Homo sapiens: one gene and its partners. The protein of the gene in region 4 purifies or fractionates together with the protein of the main gene of each other region. This does not show direct contact. Each region holds a gene or a part of one and is shown on either strand. Other genes may lie near its edges. The genes, in order: CCT5, SERTAD4, SIK2 and PPP2R2C.

Evidence for each region.
Region 1: the proteins of PPP2R2C (region 4) and CCT5 purify together in Homo sapiens (affinity purification with mass spectrometry; 5 studies listed by BioGRID and IntAct, with this or other methods). This does not show direct contact.
Region 2: the proteins of PPP2R2C (region 4) and SERTAD4 purify together in Homo sapiens (affinity purification with mass spectrometry; 5 studies listed by BioGRID and IntAct, with this or other methods). This does not show direct contact.
Region 3: the proteins of PPP2R2C (region 4) and SIK2 purify together in Homo sapiens (affinity purification with mass spectrometry; 5 studies listed by BioGRID and IntAct, with this or other methods). This does not show direct contact.

The regions. Positions count from the first base shown.
Region 1 is NC_000005.10:10,253,080-10,260,416, forward strand, and holds part of CCT5 (T-complex protein 1 subunit epsilon), read left to right. Parts: intron 1-1,065; coding exon 1,066-1,126; intron 1,127-1,594; coding exon 1,595-1,759; intron 1,760-2,875; coding exon 2,876-3,074; intron 3,075-5,031; coding exon 5,032-5,224; intron 5,225-5,306; coding exon 5,307-5,456; intron 5,457-7,337. UniProt on the Homo sapiens protein: Component of the chaperonin-containing T-complex (TRiC), a molecular chaperone complex that assists the folding of actin, tubulin and other proteins upon ATP hydrolysis.
Region 2 is NC_000001.11:210,228,460-210,236,027, reverse strand, and holds the start of SERTAD4 (SERTA domain-containing protein 4), read right to left. Parts: upstream 3,233-7,568; 5' UTR 3,017-3,232; intron 2,394-3,016; exon of another isoform or gene 2,143-2,393; intron 1-2,142.
Region 3 is NC_000011.10:111,597,251-111,605,490, reverse strand, and holds the start of SIK2 (serine/threonine-protein kinase SIK2), read right to left. Parts: upstream 3,043-8,240; 5' UTR 2,928-3,042; coding exon 2,793-2,927; intron 1-2,792. UniProt on the Homo sapiens protein: Serine/threonine-protein kinase that plays a role in many biological processes such as fatty acid oxidation, autophagy, immune response or glucose metabolism.
Region 4 is NC_000004.12:6,469,464-6,477,607, forward strand, and holds the start of PPP2R2C (protein phosphatase 2, regulatory subunit B, gamma), read right to left. Parts: upstream 3,152-8,144; 5' UTR 2,767-3,151; coding exon 2,697-2,766; exon of another isoform or gene 2,649-2,696; coding exon of another isoform or gene 2,621-2,648; intron 1-2,620. UniProt on the Homo sapiens protein: The B regulatory subunit might modulate substrate selectivity and catalytic activity, and might also direct the localization of the catalytic enzyme to a particular subcellular compartment.

The DNA of each region.
Region 1 (7,337 bases), on a different chromosome or scaffold from region 4:
CTTTGGGCAGCCAAGGCAGGTGGATCACCTGAGGTCAGGAGTTAAAGACCAGCCTGGCCAACATGGCAAAACCCTATCTCTACTGAAAATACAAAAAAAAATGAGCAGGGCGTCATGGCGCGTGCCTGTAATCCCAGCTACTGGGGGGCTGAGGCAGGAGGATCGCTTAAACCCGGGAGGCGGAGGTTGCAGTGAGCTGAGATCATGCCACTGCACTCCAGCCTTTTTGAGACACAGCAAGACTGTCTCAAAAAAAAAAAGGCCAGTCAGTAACTTTGATCTATAAATATAATTATTGGGATTTCAGGTGGGTGGAGGAAGATTTTTAAAGCAAGAGCAGTTTTTCTTTTTATTTTGTAATGGGGTCTCGCCATGTTTCCCAGGCTGATCTCAAACTCCTGGCCTCAAGCAATCCTCCTGCCTCAGCCTCCCAAGTAGGGGGGGTTGCAGGCTCTAGTACTGCATCCAGCTCAAAAGATTACAATTCTGCAGTAAATCATAGTGTGACAGTAAGGTGTTGTATGTTTACAGTTGGACTGTTTCTCATGAGTACAGGCCCCTCCTTGTCTGCAGATGGGGAACCCGCAGATGTACAAGCCTAGATGCAAGGGACTTGAGCATCTGTGAATTTGGGTATCCTCGGGGGCTCCTGGAACCTGTTCCCCATGGATGCTCAGGGAGAACTGTGGCTCCTGGAACCAATTCCCCATGGATGCTCAGGGAGGACTGTGTTGCACAGTGGTCTTGCAACGCCTGTAAGGTCATAGTCATACTGTCCCTCTTCTCAGCTGTAAATGGGCTGGTAAAAGAATCTGTCTCATTAATGTGTTGAAAATTCAGTGAGATAACACAAAGCACTTGGTTCTCTTTCTTTACGTAAGAATTGCTTATTAAAACTGGAGTCGTAAATGTTATAATACTTAAACCTGTCTGTTGCCCCTTAAATGTAGAAGCTTCTAGACAATAGAAACTAAGTCATAAGTGATTTTTGTAGTCATCAGATGTGTGCTTTTAACCATTGAAATTATATGTAACAGTGTTTGCTTTTTCTGTTTGTTTCATTAGTCTCATATAATGGCAGCAAAGGCTGTAGCAAATACAATGAGAACATCACTTGGACCAAATGGTAAGAGTCCACCATTCCGTGTTTTTTAGCAAAAGATTTAAATTATAAAACTGTCAATATAAACCTCTCTACAGAAAGGTGGAGTATTGAGGGGAGGCATCTTACTTCCTTAACACAGCCAAAATTTTTTAGTGTATTTCAGGTTTCTTAAACATGGTTATAATCGTGTGCAATATTAGGTCGGACCTTTTTTTTTTTTTTTTTAGCATGTAACATCATTTCATTAGCATTTTCCAAATCATAGTTGTCTTTTGAGATTAACATTATACTTAATGATGCTCCATAATGTTTTGCCAATTATGTTAGCCAATCTAAAAATGCCTTCATGCAGCTACTATTTTGTGTATGTTGCATTATTTGTATATAATAAATTGCACAGATAAGAGCTGGGTCAGGAGGTCTTGTTTTATAGTTTGTGATATTGGTTGCCAGTTTTTTGCGCAAAGCCTACTAAACGTTGTTTTTTAGGGCTTGATAAGATGATGGTGGATAAGGATGGAGATGTGACTGTAACTAATGATGGGGCCACCATCTTAAGCATGATGGATGTTGATCATCAGATTGCCAAGCTGATGGTGGAACTGTCCAAGTCTCAGGATGATGAAATTGGAGATGGAACCACAGGAGTGGTTGGTAAGAAAAGACAAAACATCCTTTCTCATTTAAGAGACGTCATTTAAGACCACAGGGCTAACATGCCTGCTGAGATTGTTGTCTCTGAATCAGAGCATGAGGAGACAGACAAATCCAAGTTGAAAACATGCTACAAAACAAATGTCGGACTTTCAAAACTGACAGTGTTACAAAAGAACAGAAAGAGGGCTGGGGATTGTTAGGCATGGAGAAATGTGTAATGATTGATTGGACACTGATTTTGCTTGTCTTTTAAGCTATAAAGGATGTTTGGGAAACGTGGAAGAATTTGATTTTGGATCATGTACTGCAATGCTGAGTTTCCTGAGTGATCTGTGACCATTATATTGCAGATGTGTAGGAGAATGCCCTTCTTCTCAGCTGTATACCTAAATACTTAGGAGTGACATGTCATGGTTTCTGTAACTAATTCTCAAATAGTTGAACAGAAACAGTATGTACATGTAGAGAAAATGTGGCAAAATGTTAATAAGTAAACTGGTATTCGTTTTAGTATTGTACCTTTTTTTTCTGAAGATTTGAAATCTTTAAAAAGTTGGGGAGATTGAAGACAAAATATCAGTAAGGTTACCTTTTCTGCAGATGAAATTTGAATTCATTCAACAAATATTTATTGGATACTATTGTATGCCAAGCACTGTTCTCGGTGCGCTTGGAGAGCTGTAGATTTAAACAAAATTCATCTTTGCGACCCTAAAATGAGGAGAAAGGAGGATGGGGGTGGGGGGAATAAATAATAAACACGTTTTAGTCTCATCACCAGGCTGAATTTCACTGAGTAGACCCTGGCCCAGGAAACATAATAGCTTTTTACCTCTTAGAAAAATGTTCTTTTTACATTATATTCTTTAGTTACGTTCTTCACATCACTGAGGGTTGAATGTTCATCTGTAAGGGGACACATGTCCTATTCGACCTTCGCTAGAACTAAAACGAGGCTTTCTTTTAAAAATAGAGGGCTTCTGCCTCTAAGATGACTTGCAGCTTAATTCTAGAAGCTGCTTCTTTCCATGATAGCATCTAACTTGTGCTGATTATACTAAAAGTGAAGTTTTGTTGTTTGCCTGAACTGATTGTCTGCTGGCTTATTTGCAGTCCTGGCTGGTGCCTTGTTAGAAGAAGCGGAGCAATTGCTAGACCGAGGCATTCACCCAATCAGAATAGCCGATGGCTATGAGCAGGCTGCTCGTGTTGCTATTGAACACCTGGACAAGATCAGCGATAGCGTCCTTGTTGACATAAAGGACACCGAACCCCTGATTCAGACAGCAAAAACCACGCTGGGCTCCAAAGTGTACGTTTCAGTAGATGATATGATTACCCATTTGTAGAGGAGGCAGTTTGTTTGCCATTTCTTAAAGGCAACACAAAATGACCACTGGTGGATTTGTATCGATTTGATTATTTGTTTTGATTACTTGGTTTTGCTTTGTTTTTAATGTAGATGTAGACAGATGCATTTTGTATTTAAGTTGAGAACTGAATTTCTAAGTTCAGGTATAAATCCCCTTGACAATATTTGCAAAATATAGTTATTTTAATTTAGCAGAATAGGTTGTGTTAAAAATCAGCTAAGGCTGGATGCAGTGGCTCATACTTGTAATCTCAGCACTTTAGGAGGCCAAAGCAGTAGCTTGCTTGAGCTCAGGAATTGAAGACCAGCCAGGGCAATGTAGTGGGACCCCATCGCTACAAAACAAAAAACTAGCCAGGCATGGTAGCACACACTTCAGCAACTCCAGAGGCTGAGGTGAGAGGTCGAGGCTGCAGCAAGCCATGATCATGCCACTGCACTCCAGCTTGAGCAACAGAGCGAGACCCTGTCTCAAAAAAAAAAAAAAGTCAACTAGAAAGGGTCCTACCTGGAGGATATGTGAATTTTCTTAACACTTCTTTCTATAATTTCTTTGCTGGGGAGCCATTGGGGGTGGGTTCCACTTTTTATTCAGCAAATTGCCGATCCAAAATTATAATTTAGTAAAGAGAGTCTTGAAAGCGACTTGTCTCTGGTGTTTTCAGCGTTCGTGTAATGTCCGTTTGCCAGGCTTACTGCCAGGTCTTATGGGCACTAAGACACAGCTCTTCTCCCAGGAGACTCTAAGCAACCTCAGCCAAGGGGTGCGCTGATTATGTACAATGCCAAAGACTTAAGGTCTGTTGCCGTAATATAACATAAAAATCCAGTGTAAGCTGCTTTATTACATTATATTAAATCAGTGAGAGATGTTTTCAATTGTGTGCTTGTGGTGGTTTTAGCAAAAAGGAATGAGGGATCTTCTAAACTCAGAGTAGTCAGGGAAAATGCAGGAAAAGTGTCTGCTTCTGTTGCCTTTTCCCCTGAGCAAAGCCTATGTTAGAGCAGAAGCCTTCAGCAATGCCTGCTGTCCTCCTCTAACCACAGATCTCAGCAGAGACTAGCTCCCTAGGCAAGAGTGAGTACCCTAGGGGTAGCCTCTTGTCACAAGTATAACACTTATTTTCTCATGAAAGGAGGACATCATCATTACTTGAAGTGTACAAATCAGTTTTCTTGTTGCTTTATAAGTTGGCCTTGTTCTGTTTGCAAGTATTAAGTCATCTACTTAAGATACAACATGTTTACTTTCATGGTTCTCTTTTATAGATAACCTGTGATTTCAGACATTATTTCAAGTGCTAGGTTTCCCTAGTTGTTTTTCTTGGCTCAAAAATTAATTTATTGAACTGTCTATTCACATGTTTCAAAGCTTTCAAAAAGGTAACACCCTCCATCTATAATGGATGTTGTGGTGAATTCTTGGAAAGTTTAAATGCCCTGTCCAGTCCTTTCAGTTCCTGGTTAGTGCTACACTTCATTGAGATAAGAGTGACTCTTCCTGAGTGATTACTTACCTTTCCCATTCTGTTCTGAACTTGTAAAATAGTAACAGTATTCTGTAAAAGTGCTGCATTCTAAGAAGACCTTAATTCATGCCAGACTACAGTGGTTTCTTGAGTACATTCATAATGGAAGGAAATAGTAAATTTCAGAGTTAGCGAAAATAAAGATGTAATTTTTTCCTATCTAAGTATACAGTCCCCTTTAGGGCCCATGGATCACAGGTTAAGAATCTGCCCCAGACTGTTGAAAATGCAGGTTGAGATGGCATTCCCCTCTAGAAGACTCAAAACATCGTTTGATTTATATCTTTGAGTAACATTGTGTTATGTGGCCTGCTTTGGTTGCAGTAATTGTGAAACCAATGAAGTTTGTTTTGTGGTGTTTTCCTCAGGGTCAACAGTTGTCACCGACAGATGGCTGAGATTGCTGTGAATGCCGTCCTCACTGTAGCAGATATGGAGCGGAGAGACGTTGACTTTGAGCTTATCAAAGTAGAAGGCAAAGTGGGCGGCAGGCTGGAGGACACTAAACTGATTAAGGGCGTGATTGTGGACAAGGATTTCAGTCACCCACAGATGCCAAAAGTGAGCCATTGCATCTCACAGCTTCGCACTGTTGGTTAACTCTTAATTCCACCAATTAAAATGTCTTTATGTTCCCCCATAGAAAGTGGAAGATGCGAAGATTGCAATTCTCACATGTCCATTTGAACCACCCAAACCAAAAACAAAGCATAAGCTGGATGTGACCTCTGTCGAAGATTATAAAGCCCTTCAGAAATACGAAAAGGAGAAATTTGAAGAGATGATTCAACAAGTAAGTCTTACCAGAGTCCTCAGTGGAATTTAAACTCCCAAAGGGTACAGTTAGTTAGGTTTGGTTAGTAAATATGTGTAGTCTTTCTTCAGTTCTAAAACATACACAGGAAAAAACCAAATTGCATAGAAAGGCATAAACAGGGAAGAATTCTAATTTTGTCTTAAAATGGTAGCGTGTTCAGGCCAGGTGCAGTGGCCATGCCTATAATCCCAGCACTTTGGGAGGCTAAGGCAGGCAGATCGTGAGATCATCGAGACCATCTGACTAACACGGTGAAACGCCATTTCTACTAAAAACACAAAAAATTAGCCAGGCATGGTGGCAGGCACCTATAGTCCTAGCTACTCAGGAGGCTGAGACAGGAGAATCGCTTGAACCCAGGAGGCAGAGGTTGCAGTGAGCTGAGCTTGCACCACTACACTCCAGCCTGGGCGACAGAGCAAGACTCTGTCTCAAAAAAAATGGTAGTGTGTTCAGGGTCCTGAAAGAAGTGACCCTGTTACCTAAAGCCGTGCTTTCAATTGTACATATTATATTTGCCGTCCTGGACAAATTTAACTTAGCTTACCTTGCCTTTAAGATTTCTGACTATACCTTTTAGGCAAGAGTTAATGAGTAACTGGAGTTAAACCAGAATGCACTCATAGTAATCCCAGTTCTTTGCTCAGTTAAGTCTAGTTTGGGTTCATGAATACCTTAGCGTAGGTGTGCTTTCTCTCTGACATAGCAACTCCTCTTTGGGGGCTGCGTCCTTGGGAGTTGAAAACACCAGTACTCAAGAAGACAGGAACGTGGGTTGGTTAGGGTATTATTTATCATAGCAAACCAACTAGAGACTATTTTCATGTCTGTTCTTGGGAAAGTTGTTGAATGTACTCATTGATGATACGGTTCTTGGTGCCTACGACATACCAGGCTCTGTTGTAGGCACTAAAGGTACAGCAGGGAATGAAGCCAAGCTCGTGCTCTTGAGACACAGATAAGAGAAAGGTGGGTACAGCTCCATTACAGACACTGGTCAGAGAGGTGACCTGTAAGGAGAGGCCAACATAGGGTGAGAGCAGTGCCCCTGGGGGAGGAGCATTCCAGGCTGAGGACAGATGGGGATGCTCCTGAGCCAGGAACATTGTTGGCTTGTACAAGGAAGAGCCAGCCTCAGGGATTGAAGCATGCTGGCGGGAGCTTATAAATAAAAGGCCATCATCTGGGCCGGTGGGACAGTTTTCATGAGAATGGTGCCTCAGCTGTGCTGGGGGGCCACAGATAAATTGAGAGGCCAGGGATGTTACTGGATCGTGCTGGTGAGGCGCAGGTTGCTGAGAATGAGAAGGGAATGACGATGGGGCTAGATAGTAAAATGTTAAAGAATGAGAGGCAGGGACCCAAAGAGGAACACTGCAGGTGACTGAGGAGCAAGAAGGACCCTCTCCTGTTCTGAGCATGTGAGAGGGAAAGCAGCTGCCATCTGAGGAGGGTTGCAGGGGCAGGTTGGTTTTCCGGGGTTGTGACGGAGAGATTGTATAAGGAGGCTGCTGTTCTGGACTGAGTTCCAGAGGGTCAGGGAAGGAAGAGAGGGAGAGCCAGGCAGTAGCAGGTAGCCTGGGAGGCCTGATGGAGACAGGTAAGCCAGAGTTGTGGGGCACGGTGTGGCAGTCCCAGGTGAGCACCAGAGGTGGGGTGGGCAGCCTGATCGTTGCCCTCCTAATTGGGAAAAGTGACTTTGCCATTTGCAGGTCGGGGTGAGGGTGCTTCTTACTGGAAGCAGGGTTGCCTCTGTGAGTGCCCGAATTAGTTTATGGATCCACTGAGGATTGTCCACTCAGGTGAGACAGTCAAGTTGCAAGTGGTTCATAACATTGTTTGTTTAAAACATACTCA
Region 2 (7,568 bases), on a different chromosome or scaffold from region 4:
CTAAGAGACAATCATATCAGGAAATACTATTGCCAAGAGCACATGAATTACAGCTTTTCAACAGTCAGCAGCCCTTTCTTATTGAGAGAATCAACATTTTCTAGTTTGAAGTTTACACTCACTTTTGTGTTAGATCATGGGAATAAGATGCAAGCCTTTTGCCTATGCAGACTTTTATTTCATGTAAACAAAAGCAGGTTGTCAAACTCATGCCCCTTAAGAAAGAAAAACATTTGCAGGCTCCTGGCAGCAATTACTTTTGTTTAACAGGACATTATATGGGCCCTGTGCTGTTTTATGTTTGTCAGAGTTTGTTTATATTTTAATAACTTTTTGGTAGTACCTTTTTTGGTTGTGAGGAATTTCAGCGTTTCTATTTGTTAGCATTATTTCCAGCATATCCTATTATGCACGTGAACTTGAAACATGGCATAACAGTATTTATCTTGGCTATTATTTTGTTCACAATATCTAATTTTACTAAGTTTTTCTTTTTTAAATTGAGAACTGTTACACACAAAACCCTAAACTAGAGAGGCTGAGTTCTGCAAGTGATTTATGTAAATCTGAATAAAACATGAATGAGTTGGGATTATTTGGGAGCGGGGAGGAGATTTTGCAATTGAGTCTTCCTAGTCTATTTAAAACTTACACTGGATGTTAACAAATTAAGAAGGCAAGTTGAATGTTCACGAAAAATTGGACAGGGCAGCGTTAAGCACAAATGCTTAACGTGAATCTTTCTTCGTATTATATGTAGAGATCTAAACTGTCATAATTCTCTGTCTGATAAGATTTATAATTCTGCTACTGACGTCAGCAATTCAAGTCCACAAATTCGTGTTCTATTAATATTAAATAAAGAAAAGGATATACATTATGGCAAAATTTATTTTCTAAGATCAGAGGTGATGGATTCAACAGGAGGGTGTTAGAGTGTGTTTTGTCTATGCATGGGTTTAAAAGATAAGAAAAAAAAAAGCCCTAACCCTTCATCCTCAGGCTCCTGAATGTCTGTTTTGACACCCAGGTGGATGTAGTGGAATGACACTTCCAGCATCCCCAGAAGACTGAGGGCTAGAATGCCAAGCTTTTCCAGCAAATGTTCGTAGTAAAGTTACCAGGCATTTCTATACAATTTGTTTTTTTCCAGATGAGTTGGGCTTGTTCTTTCCTAGAAGCAATTATGATGCTAATAGGAGTGGCTGGCACACAAAACAGGGTAGCTATGAATTCAGCGGCACCTTGAATCTAACAAGGGGCTCCAGGTCATTCTTTGCTCACTTCTTCTTCCATCTGTCATTGAAAATTGGAGAGCATTTGATTAAGATCATTATAGCAGTTAGCAGTCTGATTCCAGCACTGGAAAGCAGGGAAGTAAAGGGCTATTTCCACCCCCGATCGATGCTGCCAGTTTTAAATGGCATCAAGCCCCTGACCTCCACATTGTCCCAAAATGATCTCAATAGCTTGTCCGGCTCCTGGTGGTGGTAGTGGAAGGGACTGGATGGGCGGAACAAAATTCTTCAACCCTTCTAAACAAACAGATGTCGCTTTTCTGCCGTTCCTGCAGTACACCTGTCTGCCCTGGGAAGTACATTTCTCAGCTGCAGCCCCGCGAGGCCAAGAGCTTGAAGCTGGGTCCTGTGGTTGGGGCTGCAGGTGCTGGGCCTAAAGAGCACGAAGGGGTGCTCCGATGCCCGAGCCCTGGTGCCCAAGGTGTGTGTGTGTGTGGCGGTTGCGGGGGTGGGGTCCGAGGTTTGGAGGGCCGACCTCTTGAAGGCGGGCGGCAGCCACCAACCACATCCTGGCTCCCGCACAGACACACCCCCGGGGTGTCGGTGCCGCAGCCCTCAGCCCCTCCCCGGGTAGCCAGCAGCGCCCGGTCGGCCGCTGGCCGCAGGAGAAAGTAAACAACACCCCAAGTGTCCGGGAACAAAGGCAAGTTGTCTTTCTACGGTGCCGCAGCCGTGTGCCTCTTCTGAAGAATAAGAGCTATTATTATTCTTTATGTCTTATCCTTTTTTTTTTTTAAAAAAAAAACCAAGTTTCCTTCTAAGGGAAATAAACACCAAAGGTAGGATTCCAAGGAAATGACTCACAGCGGCTGGCAGGGCTCTGGCGGGGCTGGCCCGGGCCCCCGCGCTCCAGCCCGCAGCAGATGTCGGCCCGGCCTTCCCTCCCTCCCTTGCCGGCCAAACCCGCTGGAAGCCCGCGGTTGCGGGAGCGCCCTGCGCCCGTGGGACCTGGCGGCGAGGACGCCTATTCCCTGCTTCTGCGACCACAGCTGGGCACTCGGAAAGTTGCTAGGGCCGAAGAGGCGGGAGGGGAGGAAGGGAAGCGAGAGGCGGAGGCGTGGACCAGGCGGGCAGCAGCCTCAGCCCGCCGAGGAGGTGAGCTGAGGACAGAGGAGCCGCCGCCGCCCGCAGCGCAGCTCTGCTGCCTGGGAGGAGGGTGCGGGGGCGGAGGTGGCGGGGGACAGAAGGTGTCAGCTACTGCATCAATTCCTTTTTCTTGCAAACGCGCGCTCCTGACATCCACAATCCCTCTCTCCCCACCTGCCAAGCGCCGCGGCATCCGGACCTGGGGGCACCCCTCCTACTTAACCCCTTCCCCTACGATGAGGGACTAAGCGGCCACGGAGGACCATGAGGTCTCACCAGAGCTTCTGACCCCACCCGCCCCTGGAGTTGTCTCGGTGCGCGCGGGTGGCAGCCCGAGCAGCCCTAGAGGAGGCGGCGGTTCCCGCCCTGGTGAAGGCGCCGCGGCGCACGCTAGCCCAGGGAAAAGCCCGCGCCGCCTCCGCGCCCAGCTGTGCCTTGGCCCCCACGCCGCCCCGACTCCGCTCCGGCCGCTGCGAGTCCACTCGGTGACCTCGGCACAGCCCTGGTGCCAAGAGGGCGCGCGGGAGGCCGCGTGGGTGCCCGTCTGCGAGGGCAGGAGCCCCGGGGGGCCCTCGCCCTCCACCCTGCCCGGCCCTCCCGCCCCCGCGGCCCGCGCCCAGCCCGGCTCTTACCGCGGGGTCAGCGGGGAGGCGGCGGCCGCAGCGCTTGAGCTGCTGCTGGTCCGCTCTGGGCTCGGCGCCAGCCCGGCCGCCGGTGCACACTCGCGGGTCCCGGCCCGGCCGCCCGCTCGGCGGTGACTGCGGGTGCGCGGCGGGCAAGGGTCCCGGCAGGTCCCGCCGCCGCGACTGGGGCGCTGCGCCGCCGTCGCTGCAGACGGTTATGGTAATGAGCGGCTCTGTCTAGCGAGGAGCGTGTGAAACCCGTCAATCCTGTTTGCCATTTCCCCGTGGATTTCCGAGGAGAGGTTCTGCAGGATGCCCCCAGGGTGAGAGAGGGAACATGACAAGCGCGCCCGCTCTCCCTCCCTCCCTCTGCTCAGGCCGCCGCCGCCGCTCCTCAGGCTGCACACGGGGCGCCTTTCCCGCACCCCCACCCCAGCCCGCCCCCTGCCTCCTTCCCTGCTTCCCGCCCTCCCTCCTCCTTTTCCTCCCCTCCCCTCCCGGTGCCCGGGGACACGCGGGCCCAGCTCCAGCCCGCAGCCCAGACCCCACGCGCTCTCGGGCTCCCGCCCTAGCCCTGGGGGCTTGGCTCCAGCCGAATAATGTATTCACTCTGGAACCTTCCGAGATATCTTGTCTTTTTAAATTTGGTTTAGTTTTGTTGTTGTTGTGTGTGCGTGTGATTAAAAAAAAAATCTGTGCCTTTCCCACCCTTTGCAAAAGACTTTCTTCTCCTTTGCCACAGCAAACGGAGATGAGAAACAGATGTCTTTGCAGGACCAAACAGTTATTCTCCCTCGCCGCCCGCCCCCGCCCGTTTCCCTCCTGAGCTGCGTACGTATTAAAAAAAAAAAAAAAAGCAACCTTGGTCCTGCTGCAACTTGAATTGGCAACCCTTTCTGGGTGGGGAGCCTCCAGGGAAAACCTCCAGGAAATAAAAAGTAATACAAGAGATTGTCCTTGCTCAAGAGAATGTAATTTAAGCCTTGGAATCAGAATATTTTGCAAATAGTAATTTTCTCCTATAGTGGCCTCAGAGTTTATTTTTTAAAATCATTAATTCATAACTTCTGTCTAGGGACCCCTCCATAGTCGAGATGGGTCATTTCAGGTGTAATGAAGGCAGAGGCTTGGAAGGCATAGACCTAATAAAATCGGGAGAAGGCACCTGCACAAAAGTGTTACAAAGACTATAATGTTTGTTTACTGCCACTATACCAGATGTGCTAAATATAACACTTCTTTAAAACAGTGATCCTCCGACTGTGAAAAACCAGACCTCTGGCTGCCTGGCTCCCTAGGAATCAAGAAGACGCACAGACTGAAAATCAAGGGAGGAAGGAACAAGATCAAGGATGAGGATTAGCATCTGCAAATTGAACTCTATCTAATTTGCATGTTTATTTCTTAGAATTGTAATTAAATTTGTGTAATAAATGTTTTCCATTTCATTTGTACACTTAAAACTTGGGTGACTGACATGCAGTTAAGTGAATTTCCTTTTTTTAAAAGCAAATGTAGATTATTCAATAAAGCAGCAAACCAATATTAAACATAATTAGAACTAATTTGTTTTGAAGGTGTTTTTGTTGAACTTTGTACATTAAAGACTCTCAGAGGTTTTAAGGGTATTAGGAAGCTGAGAGATGGCAATTATGCTTAAAACAGATGAACCCAACAGCCTACCAAGAGCATTATTTCATTTTTTCCAAAAGACATTCCAGGGTTGCATGCCTAAAATTGGGAATTGGGCATCCATCTTGGCTTTATTCTGAACCATATTAAATTGCATTGGCTCATGCATGATGTGGGCCATTATGATGATAATTTAAGAATTGTAAAGATGCCATTTTGTGCAGTCAATGGAAGTTGCATGTCCAGGTTAAGAGTAGAGTATAATTTTCATCTGGGTGGGAGAGGAGGGTTAGGAAAGGCACAAGGGCATTTAAAGCAGTGCAAGTACGTAGAAATCCAAATTTCCAAATAATCTAAAACTGGTTATTGTCAAACTCAAAAGAACTAAATGTGAGGGTTTGGAGGCATGGCTTATTATGGTTTTTATCTCCCTATATTAAAGTTTTATGGCATTTAAAGGACTATGGGTAAATCCCCATGTACACTTGGCTGTGTGAAAATACATAAAATCAAAAGGAGCAAATTAAGCATAAAATTGAGAAATAACATGAGACTAAGTTATCAGCATGGGTGCACTGGCATCTTTGGAGCTTTGGCTCGGAGAAATGAGCCTTCTGGGAAACTGGCATTGCCCTTGGGTGGAGAAGACTCTTGGCTTTAATGTTACAACAAAATGGTATCACAAGTATCAAATCATTGTACTTCACAGCATCCTTGCAGTTCTGAGTATGAACTAGACCCTGTCCTCATCAGATACATTAGGTTAGCATGTTTTACTGACAGCTTTCCCTGCCCTACCTTTAATCCTAAGCTTAATGTTTTTTGAGATTCAATACCCAACTGTTGACAACATGAACCTGTGTCTACAAGTACAAGAGGCAGACAAATGTCTATGGAATGAGAAACCTCATTACAAATTTAAGGTGACTATGTGGTAGCTATGGCATGAAAAAAGAACCAACTATAAATCAATAATGAAAAATTTGGAATGAGTAATTGTTATTTATAATGAGGTACAATATTTAATTGACAACTATGATGTCATCATTTTGGGGTGTGTGTGTGTGTGTATGTGTGTGTGTGTGTGAGAAGCTCCAAATAGAAGTTTGATTATAAAACTTATAATACTTTGAGCTGCAAATTTACTGAAGGCAGTGGTTGTTTTCCTTTGTTTAACAAAGAGACTTTCAGACTTAAAATTGCTGAAACCCATTTCACAAAACCTTTTTGTCATTTGTCTGATAGGGGGATTTCACAAGTAAAATTTGACTTATTCAGATTGTTGTGGACACAATACCCACTTGGATTAATTGAAAGTTAAAATTACTGGCTTAAAAAAATAGACCATTTTTGGCTGGGTACGGTGGCTCACGCCTATAATCCCAGCACTTTGGGAGGCCAAGGCGGGTGGATCACCTGAGGTCAGGAGTTTGAGACCAGCCTGACCAACACGGCGAAACCCCGCCTCTACTAAAAATACAAAAAATTAGCTGAGCATGGTGGCAGGCGCCTGTAATCCAGCTACTCAGGAGGCTGAGGCAGGAGAATAGCTTGAACCCAGGAGGCAGAGGTTGCAGTGAGCCAAGATCGCACCACTGCACTCCAGCCTGGGTGCAACAGAGCAAGAATCCATCAAAAAAACAAACAGCAACAATAAAAAAAAAAAAAACATTTTTTTAATGGCAAAAAGAAGCATCTGCACCCAATTCCTCTTCTATTCTCAAACCTTTTCCACTGAGGCTTTCTTATCCGATCACTCCATTGAAACTGTTCTGGTCAATGTCACCACTGACCTCCACGTTGTTAAATCCAAAGGCCATTTTGCATCTAACTTGACCCTTAAGCAGCATTTGACCCAGTTGCCCACTCCCTCCTCCTTTAAACGCCTTTATCTTGGCTCCTGGGACAACACATCCACCTGATTTGCCTCCTGCCTCACTGGTTGTTCCTCTCAGTCTCCTTTGCTGGTTCCCCCTCTTATCTAGGACCTCTGGATGTTGGGTTGCCTCAAGCTCAGTCCTTGCACCTTGTCTCTTCTCTACAGTCACTCTCTTGTGGATCTCATCTAGTCTCTTCCCTTCAAAACTCTCTATATTCTGATGACTCCCAAATTCATATCTGTAGCCAAGACTCTCTTCTGACTTCCAGACTCTGTGTAGATGCCTAATGGGTATCACAAGCTTTACAGACCCAAAACTCAACCCCTATTATCTCTGCTTTCCCAACCTATGCCACCTTTAATAGTCTCCTTCAATAAACAACAGTATTTTTCTACTTGCTCTGACAAAACTCCTTAGAGTCATCATTGATTTTTTTTACTTCATCTCCTTTATCTAATATATCAGAAAGTCCTTGAGAGGCTACCTTTAAATTTTTTCTTGACTCGGCCAGGCGCGGTTGCTCATGCCTGTAATCCCAGCACTTTGGGAGACCGAGGGGGGTGAATCACGAGGTCAGGAGATTGAGACCATCCTGGCTAACATCATGAAACCCCCTCTCTATTAAAAGTACAAAAAAAAAAGTAGTCAGGCATGGTGGCATGCACCCGTTGTCCCAGCTACTTGGGAGGCTGAGTCAGGAGAATCTCTTGAACCTGGGAGGCGGAAGTTGCAGTGAGCCAAGATCGCACCACTGCACTCCAGCATGGGTGACAGAGTGAGACTCCATCTCAAAAAAAAAAAAAAAAATTTCTTGACTCTGATCACTTCTCATTATCTCTACCACCACCATTCTGGTCCACGCTTTCATCATGATCTTCTGCCTAGGATATGACAATGGCCTCCTAACTGGTCTTCCTGCTTACATCTTTGGCCCTCTTTCTAGTTCAATCTCGGGTCAACAGCAATGGTGTCAATTTTTGCCAAGGCTCTTCCTAGAGCTCCCCATTCAAAATAAAAGCCATGTTCTTGTAATAGCCTGCAAAGACTAG
Region 3 (8,240 bases), on a different chromosome or scaffold from region 4:
TACCATATTCATTGTTCCACTATAACTACTGTAGTATGTTCTGCCATGAAAACTGAATTTAAAACAAAAGTTTTAATTAAACATCTTATAGTTTTTAAGGTAGTTGTATTTATCAAAAACACACAAACATTTATCCAGTGAATGAACGAATAAGGATAAATAACTGCTGTAAAAAACATCATTAACAATGGAATTGTTACTCCCATGGAATACTTTAAGAAACAATTGGGCCAGGCGCGGTGGCTCACGCCTGTAATCCCAGCACTTTGTGGGGCCAAGGCGTGTGGATCACTTGAGGTCAGGAGTTCGAAACCAGCCTGGCCAACACTGTGAAACCCCGTCTCTACTAAAAACACACAAATTAGCCGGGCATGGTGGTGAGCGCCTGTAATCCCAGCTACTTGGGAGGGTGAGGCAGGAGAATCGCTCGAACCCAGGAGGCAGAGGTTGCAGTGAGCCGAGATCGCACCACTGCACTCCAGCCAGCCTGGGCAACAAGAGCGAGGCTCCGTCTCAAAAAAAAAAAAAAAAAATTCAGAGCAACTTTACAACCTAGAGATCCAGAGAACTTTTCTGTTCAAAGATTGCTTTGACATTTCACTTATCCCTCTCTACCTTAATATCTCCAATCACACCCACCAAATTACCACAGATACCCTCACCCATCTCAAATTCACACTATTTCTTTTTATATGTTAATAACAGCTTCTTTAGAAAAGCACAGGGAAATGGGTTCTGCGGACTAAACATTTAGCTTTTAACGTAAATCATTTTACACATATATACTACACACACGATTTAGGATCTAAGTCCTCTTTCACGATCTGACCGGTGCTTGTTCCAATTACAAATGAATGCATTGATCTCACTCTGATAGCCAAACCACGGTATTACTCCATAGTGCCCCCTAGCTCTTTAAGATATATTAGTTTAAAACGGACACCATTTGAATTGTCAACCTCAAAGTGTCAATCACTCCACTTAAGCAGCTCTTACTGTATTAACTAAATTTGACCTGATAAATAATAGATGACTTAATTAAATCTTGCTATTAATCCCAGTAAGAGCTGATGAGAAAAAAATATTAAGAACTGATGGATTTGGAATTCAACCACACGATATACTACAGTTCAAAAGTTTTGTAGAACCTCTCTATAACTCACAATTTGTTTGTTTTTAGAAAGTCATTAAGCAAGGACTCATAAAACATGCATTTAAAATGCCTTCTTTTATGTAACTTAAAGGGAAATGGCATGGCATAGGCCATGGCTCTTCAGAGGAATGGAACCAATTTCTTCATTTTAAAAAATGCTGGGATCAGATTAAGATTTAACAATATCACTATAGTCAAGTTATCATTATCATTACAAACAATCTAAATTGCTAACTGGTAAATCTGTGAGAAGAAAATATCTGACCTTGGTCCTGATTCTAAAAGATAAGTCAGATTTGGACTGGTTCAGGACCAGCAGGGGAAGGCAAAAAGTAAAGAAGACAGAATGACATATACCCCTTCCTTTTGGAAACGGGATTAAGCAAAACTTCTAAGTACAACTGCAACTCCAAAAATCACTCACGTTTGCAAGTGCCCTTCGCCTTACATAAGTCATTCTGAAAAGAAGTCCTACTTTATTCTACACTCAAACTCCAGTACATTCGTACTAACAAGGGAAAAAGCAGAATAGGACCAAAACTGGAGGGCAAACAAACAGGAAAAGGATGAAACTCCAGGAGGAACTACAATAAGGCAGAGTAGAGTACGTCAAAACCACTAGGTTTTATTCTAAAGAATGGTTTTGTTTCTACCGTTCTTCTAAGGTATTTAATTTGCACGTCTTAAAATAGAGACCCTGAGGAGAGCAGCTTGAGGCAGTGGAAGGAAGGGGGGCGGGTTAGGTAAGAACAGAGACTTGTGAGAGAGTATGTGCGGTGCATTAGAATGTGCAATGAAGAGGGTGCAGGATTCACCGTCAGGAAGCAGTTGAGGGCTTTATGAGTAGAGGCAGAATCTGATATGGTTTAAAGAATGCGTATTACAGCCAGAATGCACACCTGGTACAGTGACAACCCTAGACAAGTAGAAGACCAATCCACCCACCGTGCAAATGCAGAGATGACCATTTTAACCAGTTCTATTGTCTGGGGCATTAAATGGAAATGCCCCAGGCAAGAGATCAAGCTAGCCAGACACCAAATCAGAGACACCCTGGGCCAAAAGGAAGGAGAGGAGATGGACAGTGGCCGTGGGGGTATTCCCAGCCATGGGGCCCTTCCTCGTCGGGCAGGGGAGGGGCGCCGGGGTCACGGGGGCCGCACGATCCCCCATCCGCGGAGCCCAAGCGCAGGCGGTCCCCTCCTCGGGCCGGCGACGTCTCTCACGGCGCAGCCTGGGAACACCGAGACTTCCCCTCCCACCCCACCCCCAGCCGAAAGCAGGGAAGACGCGGAACTTGGGCTCCGGAGCGGAGGCCACAGACCAGGTCACGGCCCGGGTGGGGGGCTCTGGGCGAAATTCCGGGTGGCCACCGGGGGTGGCGTAGGGGAAAGCAAAGCCCCGGCTGGTTGCGTTTCCAGTCGGACGACACTCGGGTCCGGGTGCCCGGGCCCGATCCCTTCGCTGCTCACCGACCCCCTGCACCTCCTGGGTCCTCACAGTCCCAGGCCCGCTCGCCTCCGCCAGTGAGGCGGCCTCTCGGGTCTCCCCGGTCCCACCACTGCGGCCGCCCCTCTCGGTAAGCAGCTCCTCTCCCGAACCCTCGCCTCGGACGCTCCCGCCGAGCCCCGGGCCGCACCTCCGTCTTGGTGATCCGGTGCCGCCCCAGCTTCACCACAGCGAAGTTGCCCTTGCCCAGCGTGCCCTCGATGTCGTAGAACCCCACCCGGACCGGCCCGCGCTGCAAGTGCCTCGGGCCATCCGCCATGACCATGCTGGGCCCCGCTGCTAGACACGGCGGACAGGAGCGCGGGCGGGCGGGAGGGTTGGCAGCGCGGCTTGGCTTGGGCGACGGCCGCTCCGCTTGCTCCTTCGCTCCTTCGCTCCTTCCCTCCCGCTCCCCAGGGCCCAGCCAGGCGCGCGCCGCCGCTGACGTGCGCCGACGTCAGGGGGCCGGGGCAGGGGGGCGGGGGCGGGCCCGAGCCTGGATTGGTCACCATGGCGACCGAAGCACCGCCGACGTCGGCTGCTGGAGAGTGGGGGACGGCGCACGGGGAGGGGCGCGAGCCTGGCCGGCGCGCTCCTTCCGGGCTCAGACGCCCTCCCCTCGCCCCTCCGCCTCACCGCTGCCAGGGGCGGGGTCGCTGCTCGGCCCGCTCCGTTCCTCGGCCTTCCAGGCGAAGGGCAAGAGCGAGCCCTGGCGGACCGTGCGGAGGGGTGCAGAGACCTGGATGCGGCCTGCGATCTCCTTCCCCGCCCCGGCGTTCTCCGCCCACCCGGGGTCCTTCCCGCCAAAACCTCTCACCTACAAGTACAGCGCGTCCTAAATTTGGCACCGGCAAAGAACTGTGGCTGAGCAATGCGTTGCTCACAGGCTCCTTTCTTTGTGTCCTTTTCTCTTCTCGTTGCTATATATAATAAAACCCTCCACGTTTTGATGTCTCCGAGGAGTCATTCTGACAGCAGTGCAGTCGCTTATAGACTCACAGAATGTCAATGTCAGCGCTGAAGAGATCTTGGAGATCACTTAATCCAGAGATTTGGAGCCTCATGTGAGCTTCAGAGTTTGGAACCCCCTAAAACACAGGCCAGTTTTTGCTTATGTGAGCATGTCTCTGGGGAGATGGACCCGTAGCTTCTGTCAGATTCCCAAACGCGTTGGTGACTCTGAAAAAGTTTAGAAATATTTCTCTAATCCAATTTTTTTCCCCAAAGGACGAAGAAGACCTCAAGGAATAAAGGGAATTGCCTAGGTCACACAGGCAATAGTCGAGGTAGGATTATAAATCACACCACGCTTCCAAATGTGACTCAAGGAAACAGGGACAGTGACACCTCACTATTTTGAGATGTATCATATGCCTTTATATCTTGGTTTCTAAATACCATTCTCCACCTAAAGGAGCCAGACTCCGTGGCGAGATGGCTCATTCGAGGGCAGAGACAGGGAAAGTATAAAATGCCCTTGAAAGATCCTGCTCCTTAAAGCAAGGAGATTTCTTGGCTATGTCAAGGAAGATATGTCAAAAGAAAGCAGATGGCTCGAAGGTGCTCCCCCCTTACCAAATCTGAGACAGTTTGAGTATCAGGAATAAATAATGGGCCGGGCTTAGTGGCTTACGCCTGTAATCCCAGCACTTTGGGAGGCTGAGGCGGGTGGATCACCTGAGGTCAGGAGTTCAAGACTAGCCTGTGTGAAACCCCATCTCTACTAAAAATGCAAAAATTAGCCGGGCGTGGTAGTGGGCGCCTATAATCCCAGCTACTCGGGAGGCTGAGGCAGGGAGAATTGCTTGAACCAGGGAAGCAGAGGTTGCAGTGAGCCGAGATCGTGCCACTGCACTCCAGCCTGGGCGACAGAGCGAGACTCTGTCTCAGTAAATAAATAAATAAATAAATAAATATAGAAATTGATTCTAACACATTGAATTTTTTAAAAGAATCGTAGAGCATACTTACTTTTAAACAGAAAAATAAAGAGGGGAGAAGTGAAATGACGGTGGAATGCCAACTAATATATGTTAGAAGAAATGACAATTAGCAAATCATTTGGCAGCCATTACAGTAATAATGGATTCAGACAATTATCAATAGATGTTAAAATCATTGAATAAAATTTGGCTGGGGAACAAGATATTTGCACAGTCTTTGGATTTCTTATTCATGATAAAGGGTTAACAAGGGTACCTCTACAGTGGAGAAATCTGACCGACACTACCCTAACCAAATGATCAAAGTTAATGTCACCAATTATGTGATAAAATGACATGATGTGCCTCCAGATGTGAGGCACTGAGGTTACAATATCTCTTAAGTAGTATTCCTGTCAAAAATGCATATTATGATCTAGAAACATCAGAAAGATGCAAACTAAGAAACATTCTACTCAACAACTGACCTGTATCCTTAAAAAACATCAGTGTCATGAAAGTCAAAGAAAGGCTGAGGAACCATTCTAGATTTAAGGGATTTAAAAAGGCATGGCACTAAAGGCAACATGTGGTCTTGAAAAAACATGCTATAAAGGAATATTTCAGAACAACTACTGAAATTTGAATATGGATTACATATTAGATAAGATACTGTTTCAGTGTTAAACTTCTTGAATTTTATAATTGTACTGTGATTATAAGAGAGAGTATCCGTTATTAGGAGATACACACTAAACAATTAGGTATAAAATTTTTGGCCGGGCGTGGTGGCTCACACCTGTAATCCCAACACTTTGGCAGGCCGAGGTGGGCATATCACTTGAGGTCAGGAGTTCAAGACCAGCCTGGGTGGTGGTGCGCCTGTAATCCTAGCTACTCTGGAGGCTGAGGTGGGAGAATCGCTTGAACCTGGGAGGCGGAGGTTGCAGTGAGCCAAGATCATACCACTGCACTCTAGCCTGGGTGACAGAGTGAGACTCTAACAAAAAACAACAAAAAAAAACCTTTTGATATATGCAACTTACTGTCAAGTAGTTTAGCACAGATAGATAAGGCAAATGTGGCAAAGTTTTAAATTGATAAAATAGGTAAAAGGTAGGTAAAAGGGTATGTGGTAGATCGTTGTACTGTTCTTGCAACTTTTCTGTAGTTTTAATTTTTTAATGAAAATTAATATATTGTGTATTATTTTATTTTAAAATTTATATATATATATTTTTTAGTGCAAGATGGCTTTTGGGCCCTCCACTGCTCCCTGTGCTTCTGCTTTTCACTCTCCCCAAGCAATACCTTATTCTACCATGAGGTATGTTGTTTGCAAAAGTGAGGGGAGAAATGGGGGAAAGCTGTAAGGCTGATCAGATTTCTGAATTGATGGGAGTGGTGTATGAGTGGTCCTCTAACTAGTGAGAGGTATTCTAATTAGGCTAGGAACCTACATATGTATACCAGTTCAAAAATAGTTCCCATGTGCATTTTGCCACTTAGATGATTGTATTTTTTTTTTTTTTTGAGGTGGAGTCTTGCTCTGTCGCCAGGCTGGAGTGCAGTGGCATGATCTCAGCTCACTGCAACCTCTGCCTCCTGGGTTCAAGCGATTCCCCTGCCTCAGCCTCCCAAGTAGCTGGGATTACAGGCACGTAGCACCATGCCTGGCTAATTTTTTGTATTTTACTACAGACGGGGTTTCACCATGTTGGCCAAGATGGTTTCGATCTCCTGACCTTGTGATCTGCCCGCCTTGGCCTCCCAAAGTGGTGAGATTACAGGCGTGAGCCACCGCGCCCAGCCAGATGATTGTATTTTAATTGTTCTGGGGGTGGGTTCCTTTGGGAATCTGATGAAAAGCCACTTAACCAAGAACCAGAAAATACGCAGGGAGACCCACTACAGTGAACAACCTCATCCTTTAAAGTATACCTGTTGAATGGAAATGGATTCATTTGAGTATTTAAATTAGATAACCAGGCCAAACACCTACTTGCACAGTCTGGGAATAAGAATTGATTTGGGGCTGGAAAGAAGAAAAAGGGAGGACAGAGAGTACCAAAAGGTTTTGGAAAGCTGGAGTTAGTGTGAGCATGCTGGGTGTCTACAAGTTAGAGAACAGGAGGCCAGAAAGAGGGAAGAGACAGAAGGGGCTGTGCCAAAAATCAGCCTTACTCATGTGGAAATGCAGTGGGCGTGCTACTCAGCGTTACTGGTAGGCTGTAAATGAAACCCTGAAGAAATACATATATGTGGACTAATTTAGAATACTGCAATCTTGGATTCTGTGATTCAACTCTTTCCTTAATCCAAAAGACCTACTCATCCCTGTCCTATTTCAACCCTGCCTGTCTCTTATGTATTTTTGTTTCCAATTAAATGATAGCTGTATACATTTTAGCAATTATTAATATTATCCAACTCCTGCTTTCCTTTTCTCTTCCTCTCTCCCTCTTTCTCCTCTTCTTTCTCTTTCCCTACACACACACACACACACACACACACCATCCTCAGGAAAAAAGAATAAAGATAAGAGGGAAAAGGAGAAGAAAGAGAGCTTCATACAATCCCCATCTTTCTTTTCCGTCTCTGGTTTTAGTATCAGTGAGGGAAAGCACTCTAGTCACCAAATTCCTTTTTGCTTGAGCTTTCAGATGCAGCATTCCCAGCTGATGCTGTGGGTCTATGATATTTAGCATTGAGTTGGTTAAAAAATGTTAACAGAACACTTTAAAAGGTAAAAAGGTGTACACAGAGAAAGAATTAAGTAAGATAGTGAGAGACTTAAGAATTAATTCTATAACCTACTTAGAATAAAGTGGATTATAAATAAATATGTGGAATGAGGAGACGAGTTAGCAAAGAGGTAATGAAAAAGTGATCTGAAATGTGAGGAAAGAAGACTTCATGGCTCACAATTCTGTATATTATTTTGCTGAAGCAGACAGCCTGTGAACCTGAAAAAAAGATATGTACCATTTGTCTCCCAGCTACTGGGGAGGCTGAGGTGGGAGAATGGTGTGAACCCAGGGGGCGGAGCTTGCAGTGAGCCGAGATCGCGCCACTGCACTCCAGCCTGGGCTACAGAGTGAGACTCTATCTCAAAAACGAAACAAAACAAAACAAAACAAAACAAAAAACTAGGCTTAGGCCTGGATTTAGATTTAGTTCAAATAAAAAACTGATGAAATCTTTATTAGACAACTTTGCTTAGAAAAAGTAGATTACAAAGCTAGAATGAATACTTTGCCTCTTATATTAACAAAGACAGAAGTACACAAGAAAATCCAAATCACTGACCTGTGCTCATTCCAAGGGCTTCTTATTAGTATAAAGTACAGCTATTCATGAAACAAACATCAATCAGTCAGGTTAATCAACATGTGGATGCCACTACATGTAAGGTACCATTATGGAAATAAACTAGAGGATTGAAGTTATTTAAAGAAAACTTTCTTTAGTACTTTTATTTTTAAAATAGCTTTATTGAGGTGTACTTAATATATAATGAGATGCACACATTTAATATATACCATTTGATGAGTTTGAACATATGCATACACCTGTCAAACCATCACTACAATCAAAGTAATAAATATATCCGTTACCTCCAAAAGCTCCCCACTGCTCCCATGTTTGTGTGCCAGGAGCGGGGGGCTGGGTGGGGG
Region 4 (8,144 bases):
CACTGTTTGCCCACAGGCTCTTCCAGTTACAAGGCATATAAATAATAACAATGCCATGTGTTCAATGCCTCCAACAACCCAAGCACTGTGCTGGGCACTTTTGATATTAGCAAAATCACTGATCATCCCAGCAACCCTGTATGAAAGGTCGTTATTATTTCTCCCTTTACAAAGGGAAAGTGAAGCTCAGGAAGGTGTAGTAACTTGTCCAAGGCTGCACAGCAGTCAGGAGTCAGAGGCAGGACTTTAACATGATTCAAGTCTGACATTCTGACATTCAAATCTGTGACCTTCCCTGTGCTCTGAGCATGAAATATAGTCAGGATGCAACAGTGTGAAAGTGTGTTTTTCATTAGGGAGGCCAGAATTCTACCTATTATAATGATTATTATTGTTTCTTGTTCCGATCCTGCTCTCTGCATCCGCAGCACCTGAGCCCTATGCCCTGCACACACTGGCACTCGGTCTGGACCAGGCACAAGGCCAGGCCTTGGTTTGTTCATCTCAAGGTGGGGATAAGGCGTAGGTGAGCCTTCGTATGAGGTCCCAGCACACAGCAGGTGCTCAGCATCCTTTGGCTGCACGTTAGCAATGCATAGCTCTGAACGGCTCCTTCAACACCGTTGCACCTGCTCCTCACAGAAACCTCCAGACCCTGTAGGCAGGATTCACTCCCATTTTACAGATGGGGAGACTGAGCCCTGGTGAGAAGACAGACCTCAAGGTCATATAGCTCCCTGATAGAATTCAGGCCGCACAAGGGCAGGGAGTCTTTGTCCAGTCCCCAGGGATAAAACAGTGCCCGGCATGCAGCAGGTGCTCGGTAAATATCTCGTGTCTGGATGAAGGATTGGATAGCACTGCTCTGACCTCCAGAACTGTGCCGTCCCCGTTCCTGTGCCCTGCTGAGGGCTGGTGAATTTATGAAAGAAAAGGGGACGGGCAGGGTGCAGAGGGAATTAATGTTTGAAAATGTCCACCATGGCGCTTTTTACGCCTGGTCCCACAACGAGCCCTGCGCCCCATCCCACCGTCATCCCCAACGTAGAGATGAGCAAACAGAGGCTTGCTCCAGGAAGCCAGACCACAGCGAGCCTGGGAGCAGCGGGGCAACCTGCCAAGATCCGCTCTCGGCCCGAGCCAGGCCACCGAGGCACGGGCCAGCAACCCGGCGGCTTCCTCCAACCCTCTGTCGCTGCAGGCTGCGAGCAGAAACCACATCCCGGACCCACGCTGATCCCGACTCAGCCTCGCCGAAGCAGGCGACAAAGGACCGCTCTCAGCTCCCCGGGCCTCCCAAAGCCGCGGCCGGGTCAGAGCCCCACCGGCCCGGAGGCCCGGGCAGCCCTGCCCCTCTCTCGCACACACCCGGCGGCGAAGCGTGCGTGACTCAGCGGTTCTCCCGCCGGGAGCGGGCGCGGCCCCCGCAGCCTCCCTCCGCCCAGGTCCCACGCCCAGCCTCTGCCTCCCGGGCCAGGGCGCCCCGAGCCCGCCCGCGCCCGCGCTCGCGCTGCGCTCCCCGGGCCTCCGCGGGGCTCCGGCTCCGCTCGGCCTCATTTCCGGCAGAGCCAGGCTTCGAGGAGGCGGACCCAGCCGCAGGAGCCCGGTCTCCGCCGCCTGGCCCACTCGGTCTCCCTGACACAGGCACCCACGCGCACCTGCCCCGCGGGACCCGTGCCCAGGGCCCCTCCCACTGGGGCACCCACCCGGGGAATCCGCGCACACTTCTGCGGCCGGGCCGCCAGCCCGTGGGTTAGCGGCTGACAGTCCCCGCACTCGGGCAGGGCTCCAGCACAGGCGGCCCCGAGCCCAGACCTCCCGGTCCCCATCCTCCATCGGGGTCACTCCGCGGGCCCTGCCTGCGCACGGAAGCTGTCCCCACTGTTCCCCTAGCGAGGCAGACCAGGGGGCCCCCGGAAGTTCCAGGCCTGTAAGAGAGGGGCGCTGACCCACCAGCCTCGGGGGTAGGGTGGGGGTGGGGGTTGGGCTTGTAGGGCCAACTTAGGGGATTTTAAACAGGGCCTGTTTGGGATGGCATGTCCCACTTTTTTGGAAAATCCCGACAGTTAGCCCAGCTGCTCCTGTCTCAATATAACTCACCAGGAATAAAAAGGCCAGCCCCAAACCAGCCGCCTTCTCCCTCCCACTCAGGGACCCTGCCTCTGGAGGACAGGGAGGGGCCCGGGCAGGCGGGCCTCCCAGGAGGATCTGGCAATGGATTATGTTTTTTTCCCCCCGGGTCCCTCTTCTTCTCCAGGGAGAGGGCAGCCTAGAAAATTCTGCGGGCTTTGGGCAGGGCTGAAATGGCAAATCCAGGATTTAAACCATTAAATTTCCCCGAGATTTCTTCACCAGATTAGCCACAGCCGTGGCCTTTTAAAAAATTATGGTCAGGGCCGAATCAGGATGCCACCTGGCTTGGGAGAGGAAAGCTGCCTCCCGGAGGGCGGCGCGGAGGAGGGCGCTGCCCTGTGCCGGCGCTGGGCAGCGGAGGCCGGTACCCTCGGGCTCCCTCCCTCCTGGGCCCCGGGCAGGGTGGGATGGGATGGGGTGGGGTGGGGTGGGATGGGGTGGGGTGGGGTGGGGCGGGGGGACACGACACACATCGCGCGGTCCAAACCTTCGGAGGGCATTCGGTGCGACGGCATCCCCACGCCGCGGCCGGCCGGAGGGGTCTCAGACAACACGTACGTTACCTTCAGTCACATAGCTGTGGTCCCGCAGGAAGCTGTGGTTAATTTTCCGCGTGTCCGTGTCCTCGCCCATTGAAGGCCGTGCCCGGTGCTCTGGGCATGCCCCGCCGCCACACACCGATGCAATCCGCAGAGGTCGCGCCGGGCGCGCGGGCCATGCCGCCGCAGCCTAGCAGGGGCGCGGGCCGCCGGGGCCCCGAAGGGAGGGCATCGCGGCAGGGGGACGGGCGGGGGCGGCCGGGGGCGGGCGCCGCGGTCAAGCGAGCGCGCGGTGGGCGGGCGGCGGCCGCGGGTTCGGGCGGGCCGGGGCCCAGGCGCGCATCCCGGCCGGCCCGTGCGCGCTGCGTCCGTGCGCCCGGCGGCGGGGCCTGGTGCCGGTGCGCCTGGCTGCGGCGACGGCGGCGAGGGGACGCGCGCGGCGCTGCGCTGCGCCGACCAAGCCGGGGCCGAGCCGGGCTGCGCGGGCTGGGGCCGCCGCCGCCGCCGCTGTCGCAGGCCCCTCCCTCGCGCCGCCCGCTCTCCGCCCCCGCGGCCCTGCAGGTGGAGCCGGCGCCCAAGCCGAGGCTGCACCGCCGTGCTCGGGCCCTCGCGGTGGGCACCTTGGTGCTGGGTGCGCCACGGGGGAGGGAGGAAGGAGACCGCCAGCTTGCGGGGAGAGGGTGATCAGCTGAGCTTGGGGGGAGGGTACCTTGGGTGCCCAGGTGCTCCAGTTATGGGAGAGAAGGCCAAGAGCCGGGGTGCTGGGAAGGGGGCAGGAGGAGAGCAGCCTCGCAGGCAGAAGGCAGAAAGGACTAGGAAGGAAGGAGTGGGGTCGCAGTTGAAGAGGGCGCACCTGGAGAATGGGGACTCGGGGGAGGGGAAGGACACTGTCTCCCTTCATTAGTAGAAGAGGGTGGGTCGCGCAAGTTCTGGGGCCCGTTGGGAGCATTAAGTACATGTGAAGAAGCTGGTGGAGGGGGTCCAGCAGCCGACAAGGCAAAACTGGATGAAATGGCTGGAGGGGTGATTGGGCCTCCCCCAGGCAGGGCTCTGAGATCTCTCCTCATGCCCACCTCTCCTGACGAGTGAGAAAGTTAAAGAAATACAGAGCTAGGTACCTCCAAAACCAGGCTGGAAAATGCGTCCCCCTCCTCCCTTCCCTCCCTCCCCTCCAAACCCAGGGCTCTGCCAAACAGGAACCTCCCTCTGGTAATCAGCCTGGCACATAGTGGGCCCTCAAAAAATATTTGCCTCCTGTTTTGCCAAGCTGCCACCTCCTCCACCGTGACCCACCGCCTAATGAATCACAGTCCCCTGCACGGGACACAAGCCCCAGTGGGGATTCAGAGGTGTGGGTGAGGAACCATCAGCCCTCCCTAGGAGCTCAACAGAGCCTTCCTGGAAAGCGAGGGACTCTGTGGCTTGCCTGGGAGGGGTAAGTGCAGTGGGGTGACCAGAGCTGCAGGGGCTCTTGGGTCTAAGGCATCAGTGGAGCCATGCTCCAGGTGGGGGCTGGTCTGTAATGGCCTCCACTTGTTTCAAATGGTTCTGGGGGAACTCCAGACAGCTCCCCAAACTGCAGTGGAGGTAGGAGAGTCCAAAGGCGTTGGGGGCAGGGAGACTGGGGCTGTGGGAAAGACGAGGGAAGGTGATGCCGTCTCAGATTTCTTGGAGATTGAGAGGGAGTTTTTGAAGCTACAGCTTTCGTGCCTTTGAAATCCCCAGAATGGACCTATGAGGAGATGAAAGCCCCCCAGCAGCCCCACCAGCACTCTGCAGGCTGTCATGCAAGGGCTGGCCTGGGGAGAGGCCCTGGGGCCCTGCCAGCACCTGCTTTGGCAAGTGCCCTGCCCTGTTCCAGCCTCTACCTTTTCACTGTGGAACAAGCCAAAATCTCCCAGCTGTGCAGACTCCATTCAAGGACCAGGTAAATGCAAGGGCCGGAAGGATGTGCTTGTTCTTTGTCACTTTCTACCCCGTAGGAAAGTGACCGACACCCACATTGGCCCCCACCCACCTGGCATGTTCTCCTCTCTCTCTCTCACCTGTCTGCTCACATGCCCCCCACCTCACATCCTAAGGCCAGCCCCCCACTCTCTGTCCACACCCCCTCACCTCTCTAGCTGGAGCCAGCAAAATGGCTATGCTGGGAGAAAGACAGGCTGGGTTCAAGTCCTGACCACAAGGGGGCCCAGGCACAACCTCATCTGTAAAGTGGATGTGATGGCAGGAGTGGCCCCACTGGGTTGGGGTGGCCAGTCCTGCTCAGCAGGGGTCAGGCCTCCTGGGAGCTCTCTTGTTATCATGCTGAGGCCCACCCTCCCGCATGTTCCTCAGCCTCCCTCTCTGATCATGGAGAAGTCCCCTCTCCCTATCTGTCAATCCTGCCAAAACACCCACCCTATGCTGGCATCAGCCTCATCTCCCGGGATGTCCTGGACTACAATGAAAACAGCCCCACTCTGGCCTGACACAGTACATCATCCCTTTCATCAGCTTCTGAGCCATGCTGGGGACCCTGCAGTGGGTGGTCTTTCCAACCTGACTGGGCCCCAAGGCTTGCATCCATCCCCTCCTCACCCCTCACCACCCCATCCTGCCCCACCCCCACCACAAGCAGTGTCTGGGCTCCTCCACACTGTCTCCTCCATTTCCTGGAAGCCCTCCCCCTCCAGCACAACCGAGGACTCTCCCTCAGCCCCCTGCCCACCCCCCACCTCCACTAAATCACACAATCTGCTGCTTCCTCATCTGTATCTGCACACAGCCCTGCCCCCGCTGACAGAGCCTGAGCTCCAGATCCTGCCACCCCCAGCCTCTCTGTACAGACTCCTCTCTGTACTTTCATTCATTCAATGAGGAATGTTTATTGAGCATCTACTATGTGTAGGCATGTTCCCAGCACTAGGGTAGTGTGGAAGACAGAATAGAGAAATGCTCTGCTCTCGTGGAGCTGGCCTCCCAGTGGGGTGAGATGGACAGCATAAAGTGAGCATGTACTGTGTGGGCCATGACTGGTGCAGAGGAGAAGGCGGGAATGGAGATGGAGATGAACGGGGATGGAGATGGGGATGGAGATGGAGATGAAGGCGGGGATGGAGATGGAGATAGAAAGGAACGGGGAGGAGGAGGTGCCATTTTATAAAGGTGAGTGTAGAGGAAAGCTCAATAAGGTGAAATTTGTCAGCATCTCTCCAGATGCTTCTCACAGCGTAAGCCTGCTTGGGTCTCTTCCACATTCAAAAGCTATCCTCACTCCGTGTCCCTTCAGCCACCAGCACATTGCATTTCTGCCATTCACAACCACAATGCCAAAAGGGTACAGCTACACTCGCCATCTCCTCACTCACTGCCGTGCCCTCCAACCTGGCTTCTTGCCATCCATCCCACCCCAGAAAAGAAACTTGTGTCAGACGGCATGAGAATGACTTTCCTGTTCCTGGAACCAGTGGACGCATGCTGGCCTCTCTCTATGCTGAGTTCTCGTGGTCTCACCCTGTGGACCATGCGCCTCCCTTTACTTCAGTGGCACCACCTTTCGCTGCCACTTCTCAGCAGGTTTACATGCTCCACTCCTTCTGACGGCCCCACCAGGCTATGTCTCCCTGTGCTTCTGTGCCCCCAACTTGTTGTAATTGACAGAGAGAACATGCATGGAAAGTGTGCTGTGCACCGCACCATGTCCCCTCAAGTGCACAGGCTGAAGCCCTAACCCCCAATGTGATGATGTTTGCAGGTGGGGCCTTTGGGAGATTTGGGTTAGACAAGGCCATGAGGGTGGGGTCTTCATGGAGAGATTAGTGCCCCTATAGGAAGAGACCAAAGAGCTTGCCCACTCTCTCCCCAGGTGCTCACGGGAGCACACGGCGAGACAGTGGCCGCCTGCAAACCAGGAAGGGGCCTCACCATGAACCAGATTGGCCAGAACCTTGATGTTGGACTTTCCAGCCTCCAGAACTGGGAGGAAGTACATTTCTGTTGTTTACGCCACTTATCCTATCTTGTTTATTATGGCAGCCCAAGCCGACTGCACAAAAGTTAACTGTTCAGCTTGAAGAACGACCACAAAGTAAACACTCATCTAACCACCAAGTCAGGAAAGGGCGCTAGCCACCTCTCGAGGCCTCCCTCACTCCCCTCTCTCTCCACTTCCATGGACTGAACAGCTGTTGACTCCCAAAATTCATATATTGAAATCCTGTCCCCTAATGTGATGGTTTTAGGAGGTGGGGTCTTTGAGAGGTGATTAGGTCCCAAGGGTGGGGCCCTCATAATGGGATTAGCCGCCTTATAAGAAGAGACGTGAGAGAGTTTGCTTCCCCTCTCTGTCCCTCTCCCTCTCTCTCTGTCATATGAGGACACAACAAGAAGTTGGCTATCCACAAATCAGGAAGCCCTCATCAGACACAGGATCTGCCGGCACTTTGACCTTGGACTTCCCAGCCTCCATTACTGTGAAAAATAGATTGTGGTTTATGCCGTCCAGGCTACAGTATTTTTGTTCTAGCAGTCCAAACTGACTAAGACACCACCCCAAAGATAACCCCCATCTTGACTTTTAACACTGTAGTTTTACTAGTTTACTAGTAAATTGTAAGGTAGGAATGTTTTCATAACTGCTTTCATTTGCACAATGTTTTTTTTCTGAGAAGCACTCATGTTATTTATATATATGTAACTGTAATTTATTCATTTTTCATTGTTGTGTAATATTCTATGGCAGAAATACACTGCAGCTGACCCCACTGTTGTTGGGCACATAGGTTGTTTGTTCAGTGTGGAGGCTAATTATGAACAACAATTCTGTGGCTCAGCATTCATGTGTACACAATTCTGGGAACTGGCTGGGTGCAGCAGTTCATATCACCAGCACTCTGGGAGGCTGAGGCAGGCAGATTGCTTGAGCCCAGGAGTTCAAGACCAGCCGAGGCAACATGGGAGACCCCGTCTCTACTAAAAAAATGCAAAAATTAGCCAGGCATGGTGGTGCATGCTTGTGGTCCGAGCTACTCGGGATGCTGAGGATCACTTGAGCCTTGGAGACAGGGGTTGCAGTGAGCCAGGATGGTGCCACACTGCACTCCAGCCTGGGCCACACAGCAAGATTCTCTTCAAAAGAAATTCTAGGAATTGCTGAGTGATAGGGTCTGTTTGTTTAGCTTTAGTCATGGACGTCAACCAGTTTACCAAAGAGGTAACAGAAGATTGTCCCTGTTGATCCACAACCTTCTTAAATGAGGTATTGTCATTTTGATTCTAGCCATTCATCACCTCTAACGCCAAACCCAGCATCCTCTCTTAAAACTGGAGGCTGGGCACGGTGCCTCACGCCTGTAATCCCAGCACTTTGGGAGGCTGAGGCGGGTGGATCACAAGGTCAGGAGATCAAGACCATCCTGGCTAACACGGTGAAACCCCATCTCTACTAAAAATACAAAAAATTAGCCGGGCATGGTGGTGGGCGCCTGTTGT